Regions from separate parts of the Homo sapiens genome. Here all the other regions are reported to be linked to region 1. The links are microRNA targets in miRTarBase. Many come from high-throughput screens and were not tested one by one. Region 1 holds a microRNA gene; each other region holds the end of a gene's coding sequence.
The links. Region 1 holds the annotated microRNA hsa-miR-3929 (GAGGCUGAUGUGAGUAGACCACU, at 2,924-2,946, shown strand). A microRNA usually pairs through its seed, bases 2 to 8, with sites in the 3' UTR of a target mRNA and lowers its output. Matches are read on the target gene's strand: a 7mer-m8 pairs with bases 2 to 8, a 7mer-A1 pairs with bases 2 to 7 and ends in A, and an 8mer does both.

Region 1 (4,067 bases):
AAGTGGTTCAGCTAATGTCAGCATTCAAGGGCCTAAACTTCCCAAACTGACTACAGCTGCTCTAGAGCTTACTTACTACTGCTAGGAAAAAGCGTCATACCTCCCAGCAAACATAGATATTTTTCTTTTTCAGATAGTAAGATACAGGTTGAGTTGAGTATCCCTTATCTGAAATGCTTGAAACCAGAAGTGTTGCAGATTTCAATATTTTTCAGATTTTGGAATATTTGCATTACATTTAGTTGTTCAGCATCCCTAAGTCAAAAAATCTAAAATTGGAAATGCTCCAATGAGCGTCTCTTTTGAGCATCATGTTGGTACTTAAAAAGTTTTGGATTTTAGAGCATTTCAGATTTCAGCTTTCCAGAGTAGGGATACTCAACCTGTAATAATTTTAACCTTGGCTGACAGAATGCTCGGAGCTAAATTGTATGTTCCAACCTAAGAGTTATACTTCACTGATGTTTTCTGATATATCCATCTTTTCCCCTGGATAATTAACTCTTATTTTATTATCCTAATATATAGGTATTTTGTTGTAAGCCATGTGAAATCCTTATAGAAGTAAGCAGTGCGTGAGTAGAAAATGATGCGTGAATTATTAGAGGTGTCATTGCCCCATGAAAATATACAACCTATGTTGGTTATATAGTCGTTCCTGAACACAACATCTTTCAAGGCCAGGATTTCTAAAACTCATTACATGAGTAGTTGGTAGTTTCCATTCTCTTTTGTTTAATATTTCAGAGGATATGTAGTATTTTAGTGAGGAGGTTTTGGGTGCAGGGTACTAAAAACCTAATCCAATGCACAGGTTTGAACATTAGATGGGATTCACTAAGTTTTTGCGACACAAATGCTTGGTGGGCTCCAGGTGTGGTTTGATCAGGGTTCTGGTTCTGTCTTAACTTCTCTTAGTTTCTCTTGCCCTGTGTGGGCTTTGTCTTCAGGCTGGCTTTCCTCGGCAGGGCAGGCCTGCCAGTTGTCTCTGATGAAGACATACTCTCTCTGCAGGAGTTCATCCCTGAACAAAATACCACAGCAAGGGGAGTGGGGGATGCCCTGATTGGGCTAGACTGGTCAGGCCCGGGCTGATGCTGGGATGCACGGGGGAGTCAACCCCACACAAAACCCAGGTGCTTCACAGTGGGGGTGGGGTGGGGTGGCAGACAGGAAGGGAGGTTTATTCTCACTCCATTGACAAGGCTGATGAAAAGAACCACTAGGAGAAGAGCTACTATAAAACTCTGCACATATAATTATTAGGGATGAACAATGCCAGGTTGTGCTTGATGGGCCTTCTAAGTCCTTTTGGAGCCCTCTCACTTTCTGGTAAGCCTTTAGACAAAATCTGCTTTGCGATGCCTCTAGAATGGGGCAGGTGGAAAGCTTCCTGCAATTACATTCCTTTTATATAATGTTTCTCCACCAGAGGTTTGCAGTTTTATAGGATTCACCTGCCAATTGGCAACTGATTTGAGACACGTTAGTGCATCAGCAGAAGTGGGGGACATGCCGAGGGAGCAGCCTGGTGCTTGGCGGAATGTATCCTCTAATCACTTTTCGCCAGAAAGACCCTTAAAGCAATTATACGCTTCTGCAAAGAGAACTGGAAAAGGGTTCTGGATACTTTCTCCTCTTAATTAACCAAAGAATATGCCAATTCTTTTTAGAAAGTAAACTTTTTTCCCTAGTAACTATATTGTCCCATATCTGGTTATAATTTGTGTCTGAAGTAAGTAATTAATAGAGGACTGCCAGAATTTATGAGAATAAGAAACCCCATGAGTTCACGCGTGCACACACACACACTCAGAGGACATTGATATAGTTTGGATACTTGTGCCCTACAAATCTCACGTTGGAATGGCAACCCCAATGTTGGAGGTGGGCCTAGTGGGAGGTGTTTGCATCACAGGGGTGGATCCCTCTTGAGTGGCCTGGTGCCATCCTTGCAGTAATGAGGGAGTTCTTGCTCTACCAATTCGCCCAAGATCTGGTTATTTAAAAGAGCCTGAGACTTCCTTCTCTCTCTTGCTCCCTCTCTCACTACGTGATATACTGGCTCCCCTTCACCTGCTGCCATGATTGGAAGCTTCTGAGGCCCTATGCTTCCTGTATAGGCTGCAGAAGCATGAGCCAAATAAACCCCTGTTCTTTATAAATTACCCAGTTTCAGGTATTCCTTTATTGCAAAGTAAACAGTCTAAGAAAACTGCTGTTTTCTTTACTTGTAATGTGCTTTTCACTGCCTAGCTAAAAGGAGACAATGGCCTCTGTAAAGCACCTTGTCATGGACAAGTGATGCTGGCATATCATTATAATTGTGACCTATGAAATCTTTGCCTATTCTCAGGTTTCAAATATTTTTCTCCTGACAGTTCTATATAGTATACCCTGCTTATCTGCTGGGGACATATTCCAAGACCCCCCAGTGGATACCTGAAACCATGGATACTAAAGAACTGTATATATACTGTGTTGTTTTCCTATATGTATTATTATAAAGTTTAATTTATAAATTATATTATATTATATATAATATTATATTATTATAAAGTTTAATTTATAAATTAGGCACAGGAAGAGATTACAGCAAATTATAATAAAACAGACAATTATAATGATATGCCAGCACCACTATTCTTGCACACTGGGGCCATTACGAACTAAAATAAGGGTTACTTGAACATCAGCACTGTGATGTCACGGCAGTTGATCTGATAACCCAGATGGCTACTAAATGACCCATAGGCAGGTAGCATCTACAGTGTAGATCCACGAGACAAAGGGATGATTCACATCCTAGGAGGGACGGGACAGATGGCCTGAGATTTCATCATGCTACTCAGAACAGCACACAATTTAAAACGTATGAGTTGGCCAGGTGCAGTGGCTCACACCAGTAATCCCAGCACTTTGGGAGGCTGATGTGAGTAGACCACTTGAGCCCGGGAGTTCAAGACCAGCCTGGGCAACATGGCGAACTCCTATCTTTACAAAAAATACAAAAATTAACCAGGCGTGGTGGTGCATGTCTATAGTCCCAGATACTCAGGGGGCTGAGGTTGGAGGATTGCTTGAGCCTGAGAGACCAAGGCTGCAGTGAGCCAAGACTGCGCCATTGCACTCCAGCCTGGGTGACAGAGTGAGATTCTGTCTCAAAAAAATTTTTTTAAAAAGGGATGAATTATTTATTTCTAAAATTTCTCTTTTAGTTTTTTGGATGTGAGTGGATGATGAGCCACATGTCCCTTTGGTTGGCTGAGGGTAACTGAAACCATGGAAAGCAAAACTGTGGTTAAAGGGGGACTACTATAATTTTAGCTGTATTATGTTTAGGTCTATCATCCATATTGAATTAATTTTGTGCATGAGTTGAGATAGGAATTGAGATTCATTTTCTTCCCCATATGGATATCTATTTTTCCAGCATCATTTCTAGAAAAGCGCTTACTTTTCCCATTGGAGCTTCGGTGGCTTTGTCAGTCATTAAGTAACCTTATAGGTGTGAGTCTAGGTCTAGGCTGCCTGTTGTGTTTTATTCATGTATTTGCATAAACTTGCTTTGTGTACATTAGCTTGGCTACTGGAGCCTCAAACTCAGGTTGTGGAAGTCCTCATATTCTGTCTTGTCAGTATTAATTTAGAGATCCTAGGACCTTAGTATTTCCATATAAATGTCAGAATCAATATGTCAGTTTCTCTGAAAACTTGACCTAATTATCAGTCAGATTGCATTGAATCTATAGATCAATCTGAGGAGACTGTATATTATAAAAGCATTGGGTTTTTCAACTTATGAACATGAAATGCCTCTCCATGTATTTAGGTCTTCTAAATTCATAGTTTTCTGCATAGAGTTATTAAATACCTTTTGTTAACCTTATTTCTAAGTATTTAATGTTCTAGATATCATTATAAATAAAATTGGTTTTTAAACTTTTTTTTTGCTGGTAGTAAATCGAAATATAATTGATTTTTTCAGATTGATCTTGTATTCTGTGACCTTGCTATTTTTACATAAATTCCTCAGGATTCTCTTTGCAAACAATGATGTCATTTAT
Region 2 (4,067 bases), not on the chromosome of region 1:
TCACATGTGCCTGATTTGTAGTAGATCTCTCGTTATCGTTAGCTCAGCACCGCTTCCTTCCTCTGAGAGACAGACTGACTCTTCCATAAATAGACATAGCGGGGACTGTGAAATTCTTATGGGATCCAAGTCCCAGTTGATTTGCCCAGTTGCAATCAAGTATACAACCCCTAATTCCTCATGTCTAGCTCGTTAATTAACCTCCCCTCATTTTTTTTAAGTTTGCATTTGAGAGGGAACTCCCAGACAGTGGTAAACATAGAAATACTTAACCCTTAGGAACTGTCAGCTGCCATGTTCTCCACCTACATCATTAAAGAAGTTCATCTGTAAAGAGAATGAAGCTAACAGGAAAGATGGTCTCCAGGGCTACTAACTTAAAACTTCATCCACTTTCTGACCTTCTCATGGTTTATATATTCAACTTATCCTTCAATCAACATATCCCATATCCTTTCTTTTTTTAATTAAATTGTAAGAGAGAGAAGGTCTCACTATGTTGCCCCCATTGGTCTCAAATTCCTGAGCTCAAGTGATCCTCTCACATCAACCTCCCAAAGCACTAGGATTATAAGTGTGAGCCACCGTACCCAGCCCATACCCCATATCCTTTATATAAATTCATCTTTTTGCTTAAATTAGTTCAAGTAGGGTTTTTGTCAGCAGTAACAGAGCACTGATTAATGCAACATTCTGTAACCACTGCACAAGAGAATCATCTTCTGATTTCTTAAAACCAATGCTAGTACCCCAGTCCAAAAAATGAAATCAGAATCTCCGCAGTGTGGGACCTGGGCATTAGTCATTTCAAAAGCTGCTTAAAAAGGTGATCCTTCCAGATATTTCACTTCAATGAATCAATCTTTCAAGAATATTCATTATAAGTAGGTGTGCAGAGATATATTTTAACACAAGATTAAAAAGACCTTATATAAGGCCACTAGAGCTTTTTTTTCATTCCACTCTAATAGCAAGAGTTCATATCAGAACACTTTAGGAATTTATGTCAGGTCCTAGTCACAGACCTGCAAGATCAGATCCTCCCCAATGGCATTTTTTTTTCTAATTTGTTGTAGAGACACGGTCTCACTATGTTGCCTAGGCTAGTCTCAAACTCCTGACCTAAAACCATCCTCCTACCTCAGCCTCCCAAAGTGCTGGGATTACAGGCATAAGCCACTGTGCCTGGCCCCCCAGTGGCATTTTAATCCCTCAACGCCCCTCCCCCCAACACACACACGTTCATATATAAGTAGTGTTGTGGCTCTTATGTGATTCTGTTTTTTACATGCAAAGATTTTCAAAGTGGCCAAAAACTGGTTTTGCACCTCAACCCAACACCTTCCTCAAGGTTCTCAGAGTCAAAGAAAGAGAATTTTCTTTGGAGAGTTGTTCAAGTGCTAAGCAATTTCCACCTTTCTCCCTCACAAGGTGATGCTCCCTACTTCAATTTAAGCTTGAGAGCCTGAACTATGTCCTCTGGAGTCTCTGAGGCCCAAAGGTCTATACCAAACACATTACGTACCAGAAAAAAACAAAAGTTGAGACTAGCCAACCAACTGCCTATCTGATAAAGAAGTGTCTACCTAGGGATAACTTACAGTCCCTGGATCTGTGAAAGCACAGCATGCACATTTCATAGAGAACTGACCTATAGTCATACATATATACATACATACACATATATATATATATTTTAGACAGAGTTTTGCTGTCACCCAGGCTGGAGTGCAGTGGCACGATCTCGGCTCACTGCAACCTCCACCCCTTGGGTTCAAGGAATTCTCGTGCCTCAGCCTCCCGAGTAGCTGGGATTACAGGCGCCTGCCACTATGCCCGGCTAATTTTTGTATTTTTAGTACAGACGGGGTTTTGCCATGTTGGCCAGGCTGGTATCAAACTCCTGACCTCAAGCAATCCACCCACCTCAGCCTCCCAAAGTGCTAGGATTACAGGCATGAGCCACTGCGCCAGGCCCCTTATAATCATTTTAATGTGAACTTTGCTAGCTCTAGGACCAATGAAAGTTTAAGTGAGCAAATCCCTATGCTAGAAACCAGGGGCTAAGGAAGAAATAAAAAAGTAGACATCTGGGGAAAGGCATTGCCTCTCAATGGTTCTTTTTTGTTTTTGAGATGGAGTTTCGCTCTTGTTGCCTAGGCTGGAGTGCAATGGTGCAATCTCAGCTCACCACAACCTCTGCCTCCCAGATTCAAGTGATTCTCCCTGCCTCAGCCTCCCGAGTAGCTGGGATTACAGGCATGCGCCACCAAGCCCAGCTAATTTTGTATTTTAGTAGAGATGGGATTTCCCCATGTTGGTCAGGCTGGTCTCGAACTCCTGACTTCAGGTGATCCACCAGCCTCAGCCTCCCGAAGTGCTGGGATTACAGGAGTGGGCCACTGCACCCAGCCTCAATGTTTCTTAATCTTGAGCATGTATCATAATCACATAGGCTTCTTAAAATACAGCTTGCTGGGACCTACACCCAGAAGTTTCTGGTTCAAAAGGTCTGGGATGGAGCCAGAGAACCCTCATTTATTTTTTATTTTTCTGAACCTACGGATTATACTAAAACTTTTATTTCTAGTAAGTCCCCAAGTGATACCAATGCTGCTGGTCCAGGACCACACACTTTAAGAACCACGGGCCTACATTAAGAAAACGGCAGGCAGAGATCCTCAGACACAAGGTCAACTCTCCACTAACACCTTGGTGGAAGAGCAGATGGACAGTCGGGGGAAGAAGAGAAGAAAGTGCTCATATAAAGTCCAATTAGCTAGGGGCAGAGTGGAGTTACTGAAAGGAAGACTTAGTCCTCACGGTCATTCAAAGAACCAGACTGACAATCTTTGCCATCTTCGGTGGCTTCCAAACTTATCCTGGATACGACCGTCCAACCAGCAGCTGGGAGAAGAGAATGGAGGATCATGCAAGAAATGTTTATGGGGCAAGCCTGGATTCCTATGCCCACATTTCACCGCCTACGACTTAGTCATATGTTCTCACAGAGATGCTGGGAGTAGGGAAATGTCCCTGGCTGGATTGCCACATCTTGACAACATATCTTCAAAGAGCAAGAATCTTTGGTAGACACCTAGCAGTCTCTGCCATCAAACCCCTTTCCCATTGTGGACTTAAACAAGTCTGAGCTTAGCTTTAAAGAAAATGTATAGCTAATGACACAGACATCTTAATTACTAAAATTAATGTCTGTAACTTAAAGTGACCAAAGGACTTATTACCTGAGTGACTGGAAAAAAAAACAACAATTTATGGGACTTCCCTGCAAGAGTCCATTCAGGATAGGGAGAAAAGACTGAGCTAGTGGGTTTACAGAAGCAGTCATGAGGAAAAAATGAAGTTTCTATTTTATAACTCTACTGGGCTCCTCTCTATCAACATGTTATGCTACTTTTTGGAGCTTAAGCAAAATTTTTAATGGAATAAGTCTAAAGATTTCATAGTTTTACATGTAGAGAGCTTAATATCCATTTATCTATCATTCTTAAAGCAAATGCTAAATCCCCTTTTCAAAGACGAAAACTTTGCTATTATTGAGGTTATCATCAAAGTTTTACTGCAACTCTAAAACATAGGAATGTCCCATACAACAGCAGCTAACACTTTGCTTTTTAAAGTGATTCTTCTTAGTGCAGGGACACTCATTTGTCTATGCTTGTTATACAGCGAAATTACTGCCTATGACATCTCATAATTGAAAAATTTGGAGTCAAGATTAAAGCTGTTTACATTTTTAGTGAAACTTCTCTTAAGACTGTCCAAAAGAAAATGAACTAATATATGATGCTATTATCAAAAGGAAAAAAAGAAAAAGAAACATCTTTCATGGTCTTTCATTCATCTCATCAATTAGGACACACAAGGCAGCATCTTTCTCTATAATCTGATCTCTCCTATGACCTGAATTTTCTCTTTGATGTTCATTCTGTCCAGTACAATTGTTGCTATCATCAGCATCCATTGGTTCAGTTTTTACTCTCATTCCTGCTTCTGAATGAGGCAAATCATCAGGCAAAGAAGCCAAGCAATTCTGAATCATTTCA
Region 3 (4,067 bases), not on the chromosome of region 1:
CAAATCGGTGTTTTTGTATCTCTTTTTAACCACCAAGCAAATTTCTAGGCTGCTAGAATCAGCCTGTCAGTGGCAGAAGTTATGGTTAGAAATCCTCTCCTGTTCATTTTATAGATGGGAAAACTTAAGGAGCCATGAGGGGGTTCTGCAACTCACCAGTCACACAGTCAGTTAATGGCCAAGGAAAGAACCCATTCTCCCAAATGCCAACCCAGTACTCTCCACAGAATTAAGCTATATTAGCATCGTAAGCTAACAACTCTTTTCCTACATCCCTACTGTAAGCCCCAGTAAAATGAAGCTAAAGTATCTTTTCCCCCTCCTGATTATTGGGAAATCTGCATTACCTAAATGCCAGATGCCTTGGGATTTCAAAATAGAATTATCTTACTGAAGAGAGGGCTGGTTAATAGAATGGAATAATAAATGACTACTGCTGTGGCTTAGATTTTTAAGAGAGTCCTATTGCAGTCTGTCTACCATGACAATGACCTGCTTTGGTTTCCCTAAGAACACCCAAGAGGAGCAATGACAAAAGTACACATTTTTATTAATAGCTGAATTTTAAACAGCCAATGTGTGGAGGTTATTTACTAACCAACAGGAAACACCTGCAGCAGGCTGCATACTTATAGAGCAGCAAACTTAAGGGAAGTCTGTAAGGCTTTACTGTCTTCCTTTTCAAGTCTCTTCACTGCTATGCACAGTTGAGGGCATAACCTTAAAAGTCTGTAACATAACAAAAACATTTTAAACATCAAACATCGTGCTTTCCCCACTGTGGCACATTTTTAGAGTAAAGCATTTGGCCAACTGGATGTTACAGCATGATGCCCACTACATTATGTTTAAGCTTCCATTCCAGTTCTGAACCCACCAGACCCTTGGAGCAGCTGGAATTACCAAATCAACAGGGTATCAGTGTAACTCAATCCTACATGGAGCAAACAGACAAAGCAGTTAGTTCCTCAAACACCCAATTTACTTGACAGAATCAAAGACCAACTTTATAAGTTTAGAAGTTTTTAAAAGCAGATACACATTTAGAATTAAGCTAAATGTATATCCTCCGTGTTCCCCCATCCTCACCCTCAACTCTCACACACTCACCCCCTTGGTAGGAGAATGGTGAGAAGTGGATGAAACTTGATGCTTGACTACATGGCTCCAGTAATGCAGTGAAAAGACAAAAACACATCAACGTGACGTTCCAGGGAAATAAACGCGAAATCATGCATCCAACTGGCCACTAAGGGTTGGCTGTACAGAATTGTAGTATGCGTATGGAGAAAATGCTAACTGAACCTTTCTAAACAAATAAAAATATACACAATTATTTTTCCAATAGCTCAAGTATTGACTTATTTTATGGGCAGATGATACCAAACTAGCAAAAAGCTTTATGCTAAAAATGTGCCTTTGTGGGAAAACCAGCATGTTCGGTACTTAAAATATTTCCATTCTGAACTGAAGTCAGTGAATAGGCATGTCTTGCAACTTCATTTGCTTAGCAGGGTCTTGGTTTGATTTGTAAAAACTGGGACATAAAATGTTTTACTAGCACTTGCCACTTAAAGTCCTAAATTTGGTGTATTGTGACCGTTGACAAGTAGTAGCATTTCCCCCGCCCCCAAAAAATCACAATATCAATTCTGTGGATATTTTAAAAGTTTATTTCTATTTTAACTAGCCCACAGACCCCATTCTTTGAGGGCTGATCTGATTTCTGACAAATGGTCTATAGACCCTCCTCTCGGAAACTTCCAAAAAAGTCTGCACCTTCCATCATGATGCACATTTTAAGTTAAAATTGCCAATACAACCCTTAAAATGCAAGTTTATTGAATAAAGCTGAGAAGAGCAGTAAACAGACAAAAAATGCATCCACCTAAATAAAAAAATTCACATATTTACATAGTTCAGTAACTGTTAAAAGTTTTCACATGCAGAGGTTAATGCACAGGAAAATGTTGGTAATAGCGTCTGGATGTCTTGAAATGCGGAAAGCAATGTATAGACACACAAACACATTAAGGTTTAGCTATAGGTCAATTAACAAACCTATGCAGTCCCCACAGAGTCACACATTCTAGTTCCAATTCCTCCTTTTAGGCACAAGCAAGTTGCCACATTCTTTGTAATGGTTCACACTGACCATTAATGGTGTTGAACAACAGTAGCAAGTTTAAATATCCCTTCATTTACAGAACCATCCATCCCACCAGGGTAGTATGCAACATGCTTCAAAGAATAAGAAGAGAAATTTAAAAGCCCAGATTCTACTCATAAAAATATGAATGGAGAAAAGCAAGTAGTGTCTGTGCAACACAGTGCAGTATATTGTACAGAATATTTTTAAGGCCATGGCAGTCTATAAATTAAAACTGATATTCATTAAAAGAACTTACTGTTGACTACACTCTGAGTGCTCAACACATTTGGAAATGCAGTCTACATAAGTGCTGCTTAACAAAAGAAACAAAATCACACACAGTGTGAGGCAACACATAAGCAGGTGTACCATAGAGTTTTATCTACTACAGTGGTCTATATGAATAATAATTTACAAATGAACCAGTATTAATATGTCCCTTTATGTATACGGAAGTCGCTAAACTACAAAACATGTCCATTTGAAGTTTTTAGACATCTCTGTATCATAGAAGCAAACAAACAGCATCAGTTCCTCAGTTCTCTGTGTGACTGATTATTAAACAACCTGTAGACATTGAGCATGATTACATTAGATAAAGCAGGCAGGTCTAGAGTTGTCACAATAATCAAGATGTCTAATGGCACCAGTCAAAAGAGTGCCAAAGCTTACATCAGTAAGAGAGAAAAATAAAAATTTTTTATTTGTTTATAAGTATCTTTTGTGCTGAAAGTCAACTTTATGACTGGATATAAAAAGTCAGGAGTTAAGAGTGTCATGCAGCAGCACTGATTTAATGACTGGAGATAGAACAAACAGATGTTTGAACAAAGACTGACATTCTTAACAGGTTTTATTATATTGGGTGGAATGCTCTAAATTCATGAACGCTTTTGGAAAATCTTCAATTCTCAACCCCTTAAAAAAGTATCCTGAACCAGGAAGAAAAAACAAGAGACAGAAATAATGATCTGGACAGATACAAAACAGGATGCTTTAGTTCCTCCCATATCCCAACTGCCATCTGGTGATAGAGTTCTCAGAAAGCAGGATATCTTTAATATTCATCAGGCAGAATCTCACCAGTGCAAAGAACCAACATTGATCTGGTGCCTCCGCTCACTCTCTGCAGACCATTTTGGATTCCTAAGATGTAATTATACATTTCACATGCATTTGTGAGATAAAATAAACATTATGTTTACATATATCCCACATGAGTCATTCACGCCTAAAGGTTTTCTAAATACTGTGTGTGGCACTAGAAACTTCATGCTGTATCAAGTCAGTGTCAGTATTAAGCTACTGGACTCTATAATGAAATATTATAGATAGACATTTACTGAAAACCAATATAAAAATCTGGCCCAGAAAGACCAGAATGGAAATATGCAATTTTCTTGATTTAAGATGGTCATAAGTATATGGGGTTTTTTTTCTGTTTTTAAAGCTCTACACATGGTTTAAGACAGGTATGTGTAAGAAGCCTTTTTGTGTGTGCTGACTTTATCATGACAACTCTAGCTGATTCTTTATGAAGGATTAGGGATATTCATCTTCAGCAGTGCACATGAGAAATAAACTCTGAAAAAGGCAATTTCTGGGGTTTAGGAAGGACCGTATTCTGGGAATTACTTCAGAGGAACGGACAATAATTCTAGGATTATAGCCAAGAAGGACTGGAAGACTTCAGGAGATGCTTCAGCTTCTTCTAGATTTTGAATGCTGAATAAGCCACTGAAGTGTGATATCTAAAGATAGAGGGGAAAAGTGAAGACATTAAAGTTAAAAAACTAAACATCAAACAGAGACAATATTTAAAAGGCAGCTAATTCAAGGCACACACTATGCCTGACCTCTGCTGCTTTTCTGCATCTGCATTACCATACTCCATTACCCGAACTTCAAGAGAATA
Region 4 (4,067 bases), not on the chromosome of region 1:
TGAGTTTGACTCCCTGCCCTGTCTGTCCAGCTCCCTGGAGCTGAAATGGGGGTGGTGGGACTGAATCAGGGCTTGGAAAGGTGTAGTGGGGGGTGGAAGAGGGAGAACAGGAGCCCAGGGCCAGCCTGAGGCCTCCTGAGGGCACGAGGCCTACCCCCTACACTGCCATGTTCTGCCCTGTCCTCACAGGGAGCTCAGCCCGCTGGACTTATAATGCCACCTTCTGTCTCCTACGACTCCATGAGCAGCGCCAGCCCAGCTCTCCCCTCTGCACCCTTGGCTCTGGCCAAAGCTTGCTCCCTGCTCCCACACAGGCTCAATAAAGCAAGTCAAAGCCACAGCCTGTCCTGTGTCTCTGTGGACCCCTGGTGGGGGCAGCAGGAAGTGCCAAATGCATGGGAGAGAAAGGGGAGGGCAGGGCAGGGCAGAGGAAAAGGGGATCATCCAGAACGTTGGCGGGGGTCATCAGAGTCACTCAACTCATCCTCTCCCCTTCGCAGAGGGAAAAGTGGTGGCCAGAGGAAGGCAGGGACTCCTCTGAGCAGATGGTCCTTCAGCAAGTCTGTGAAGTGGCAGTCTTGAATCTTCCCAGTTCAGTACCCATAGACCTTCCCGACACAGCCTGATGACAACCCTTCCCCAAGTGCACCCCTCACCAGTGCCTTACTGCAGCCTAGGCAGCAGAAGCACCAAAATTTATACGAAAGCACCCTTGGCATGGGGGCAGGGGCACAGCCCAGCCTGGAAGAACGATTCTGGTGCTATGGCAGTCATGGCTGCATCCAGGGGCCTGAGCTGCCGTCCAGAAATTTGGAGAGAATGGGCTGCCCTGAGAGGTAGTGAAGTCCTGGGCACAGGAGGTATTCAAGCTGCTGTGGAAGGGGAGGAGGCTAGATTAGCTGAGAGTTCCAGCCACCATGAGTTGAATCTGTAGATTGTACACTCCAGCCCTGGGAGGACAAGGACCTGGATCCTGCCCCAGGGAGGACTTCCCAGATTCCCAGAGAACCCATCTTTTCCTGGCCCTTCTCAGGCACCCTGAATAGGTGGGGACAGTGCGCGTGTGCATGCGTGTGTACGCGCATGTGTAAAGGGGAGAAGTGAGGGAACTAGAATGTTTCTGGTTCCTAGAAAGGCTTCTCCTGCCTCCCCCACATGCTTGGTCTCAAGGGATGGGGTTATGGGTTTGGAGGATGAGGGGTCCACTTTCCTGGGCTCAGCACCTTGCACAGAAATGGAAATGACACACAATTGTGTTTCCCCTCAAGTCCTACTCCATCTGGTGTGTGCAAATGACCTGGAAGTAGAAACAGGTCCTAAAAGGCAAAGAGCTTCTAGAGGATGCAGCTGCTTGGCTCAGATTGATTTTTTGTTTGTTTTTGGAGACAGGATCTTGCTCTGTCACCCAGGCTGGAGTACAGTGGCATGATCACAGCTCACCATAGCTTTGACCTCCTGGGCTCAAGCGATCCTCCTGCCTCAGCCTCCCAAACAGCTGGAACTACAGGCACATGCCACCACACCCAGCAAATTTTTTTATTTTTTAGAGACAGGGTCTTGCTATGTTGCCCAGCATGGTCTTAAACTCCTGGGCTCCAGCGATCTGCTCACCTCGGCCTCCCAAAATGCTGGGATTACAGGTGTGAGCCACTGTGCCCAGCCTCAGGTTGATTCTTAAATCCAAAGATGTCTGGATAGAGAGATGGTTTCGCAAAAGAACGGTTTGAGTCTGGGAGAGGGAGCCTGAAGTCCCAGCATTTTCTCTGGCAGCTTAAGGGGATGCGCGGTGAATGGGGAGAGGAGTCTGGGCTGTTTGGTAGAAACTTGAGCCAGGTGGGAGTTGGGGTGTGTCTAGCTGAAGCCCCTTCTTTGAGGTTTCTTCTCTCACCTCTGCTCTCCCTCTGGGTTAGAGCCCCCCACACTGGTGCTGTCTGTGCAGGACTACAGGGGCAATAAGTGTCTTCTCCAGGACCCGTATCTGTGTCTCTACCACGGGGTGGAGGGCCAGACCCACAAGGCCATGTGTGGGTGGAGTGGGGGAAGGTGGATGGGTTGCCAGGGGAGGCAGGGGAGGACCCCCAACAGCTGAGGTCTTTTTCTCTCACAGCAGAAACTACAGGGTCCCACTTCCCGTTCCATGGACTGGTCCCTCCCTGCCCGCAGGCCCACAGAAGTCACTGAAGCAACAAAAATTTGTCTTTATTGTTTTCACTGAGGGGATGAGGAGGGGTCGAGGCCCCTCTCAATACAAAGGGGTTGGTGGGCAGAGAGGCGTCTGGAGGCCAAGGCCCAGCCTGGAGAAAGAAGCCCCCCCCACAGGGGTGCTGTGTCTCCCCGCATGCCCGCCCCCAGGAACTTCCTCTCGCTAGCACCCAAGCTGCCCCCAGCCCCGAGGCCCCTGGCTCGGTGCCCAGCATCCAGGCTGTCCTACCTGGGGCCCCGGGAGGAGGTCGGTGGTCGGGGTTCCGAGGTGTTCAGCCACTGGGGGTTCGTGGTGGTCCATGGTGGGGGTTTCGTGGCTTTTGATGGGGAGGTGTCCGTGGCGTTCGCAGTTTTCTTGTGGTTTTTAGATTTCTTCGGGCTGGGAACAAGTCTTTGCAGTCATGAGGCCGCTCCCCGAGCCCAGCTCAGGCCGCGATGTGCGTGGGGGTGCCTGGTGGCGTCCGTGTCCCCCCCCCGCGCCCCCCCCACCCCCCGCTTTCCTCCCTCCCTCCCTCCCTTCCTCACACCCTCCGCCGGCCCACCTGCTGTTGAAGAGCTTCCCCAAGTACTTCTTGATGGAGCCTAAGTTCAGCCAACTGGCGGCCCTGGGCTGCGGCACTTGCAGCTCCTCGCCGAGGGCGCCCTCGGGCTGCATCAGCAGCGACACGAGGCCCGCTATGGCCAGAGCGAATGCGCAGCGCAGAGCAGGCGTCTGGAGGGGGCGGGGCAGACAGAGCCGCGGGAGGTCACGTGATGCCGGGGCTGTGGTCAGCGCGGCACCCGGACCGGAGCTTGCAGGTGTTCCGCGCGGTGGGCAGGCTGGGGTGCAGGGGCGCTCAGACCGAGGGTCGTGTCTATTTCTGGGACACACACCAGAGCACGGACGCCTTAAGGGACATCCTGGTGCTCGGAGGAATGGTACACACCTGGACATGCCCGGTGATGCAGGCAGAGCATCGAGGCGCGGTGGCTCACGCCTGTAATCCCAGCACTTTGGGAAGCCGAGGCGGGCGGATAACCTGAGGTCAGGCGTTCAAGATCAGCCTGGCCAACATGGCGAAACCCCGTCTCTACTAAAAATACAAAAATTAGCCGGGCGTGGTGGTGGGCGCCTGTAATCCCAGCTACTCTGGGGGCTGAGGCAGGATAATTGCTGGAACCCGGGAGGTGGAGGTTTTAGTGAGCCGAGATTGCGCCACTGTACTCCACCCTGCCCAACAGAGCCAGACTTCGTCTCAAAAAAAGAAAAAAAAAAAAAAGAAAAAGAAAAAAAAAAAAAAAAAAACGAACGAGGAGACACACCCTAAGGTGGACGCATGAGGACGGCATAAAGCCATTGGTCAGCTCCCTAACCTCACTGCCCTCTCTCCCGCAAACTCCTTGCTTATCCCCCTCCTTTCTCCCTGCTGTTCCCGCAAAATGACGGTCACTCTGTTCTCTGCCTGGAAGACTCTTCCTCCAGACATCCTCATGGCCAGCTCTGTCTCCCCTTGTAAGCATTAGCTCAAAATCCACCTTTTAAATGGATCCTACCCTGACACCCCTATTTATAATTGCAACCTGGCCGGGCGCGGTGGCTCACGCCTGTAATCCCAGCACTTTGGGAGGCCGAGGTGGGAGGACTGCTTGAGCCCATGAGTTCAAGACTAGCTTGGGCAAAAGACAGAGAGCCCCGTCTCTACGATTTAAAAAAATAAATAAATAAAATAATATTGCAACCAAACCCCTCATCTTGCTCTTTTTCTTGCTCTATTTTTGCCCTATTTTTTCTTTTCTTTCTTTTTATTTTATTTTATTGTTTTAAGGCAAGGCCTTCTTTTGCCTTCCAGGCTGGAATGTAGTGTCGGGATCATAGCTCACTACAG

Region 2: the mRNA of MED7 is a reported target of hsa-miR-3929. The part of its 3' UTR that is shown has no 7-base or 8-base seed match.
Region 3: the mRNA of ARL8B is a reported target of hsa-miR-3929. The part of its 3' UTR that is shown has no 7-base or 8-base seed match.
Region 4: miRTarBase lists PPY as a target of hsa-miR-3929. The part of its 3' UTR that is shown has no 7-base or 8-base seed match.

The regions. Positions count from the first base shown.
Region 1 is chr18:35,932,967-35,937,033 of GRCh38, reverse strand. MIR3929 (microRNA 3929) reads left to right here and starts at 2,892; the gene lies at 2,892-2,946.
Region 2 is chr5:157,134,883-157,138,949 of GRCh38, forward strand. It overlaps MED7 (mediator complex subunit 7), which reads right to left. Exons shown (of 2, transcript NM_004270.5): 2 at 2,542-4,067. The coding sequence ends at 3,848. Among named protein-coding and RNA genes, the nearest start is that of MED7, 5.9 kb to the right of the region's middle.
Region 3 is chr3:5,178,500-5,182,566 of GRCh38, reverse strand. ARL8B (ARF like GTPase 8B) reads right to left here. Exons shown (of 7, transcript NM_018184.3): 7 at 1,656-3,903. The coding sequence ends at 3,854. Among named protein-coding and RNA genes, the nearest start is that of EDEM1, 7.2 kb to the left of the region's middle. RefSeq lists an enhancer at 425-474.
Region 4 is chr17:43,937,075-43,941,141 of GRCh38, reverse strand. PPY (pancreatic polypeptide) reads left to right here. Exons shown (of 4, transcript NM_002722.5): 4 at 190-338. The coding sequence ends at 214. LINC01976 (long intergenic non-protein coding RNA 1976) reads right to left here and starts at 2,881. Exons shown (of 2, transcript NR_136406.1): 1 at 2,745-2,881; 2 at 2,180-2,581. RefSeq lists an enhancer at 2,595-3,095.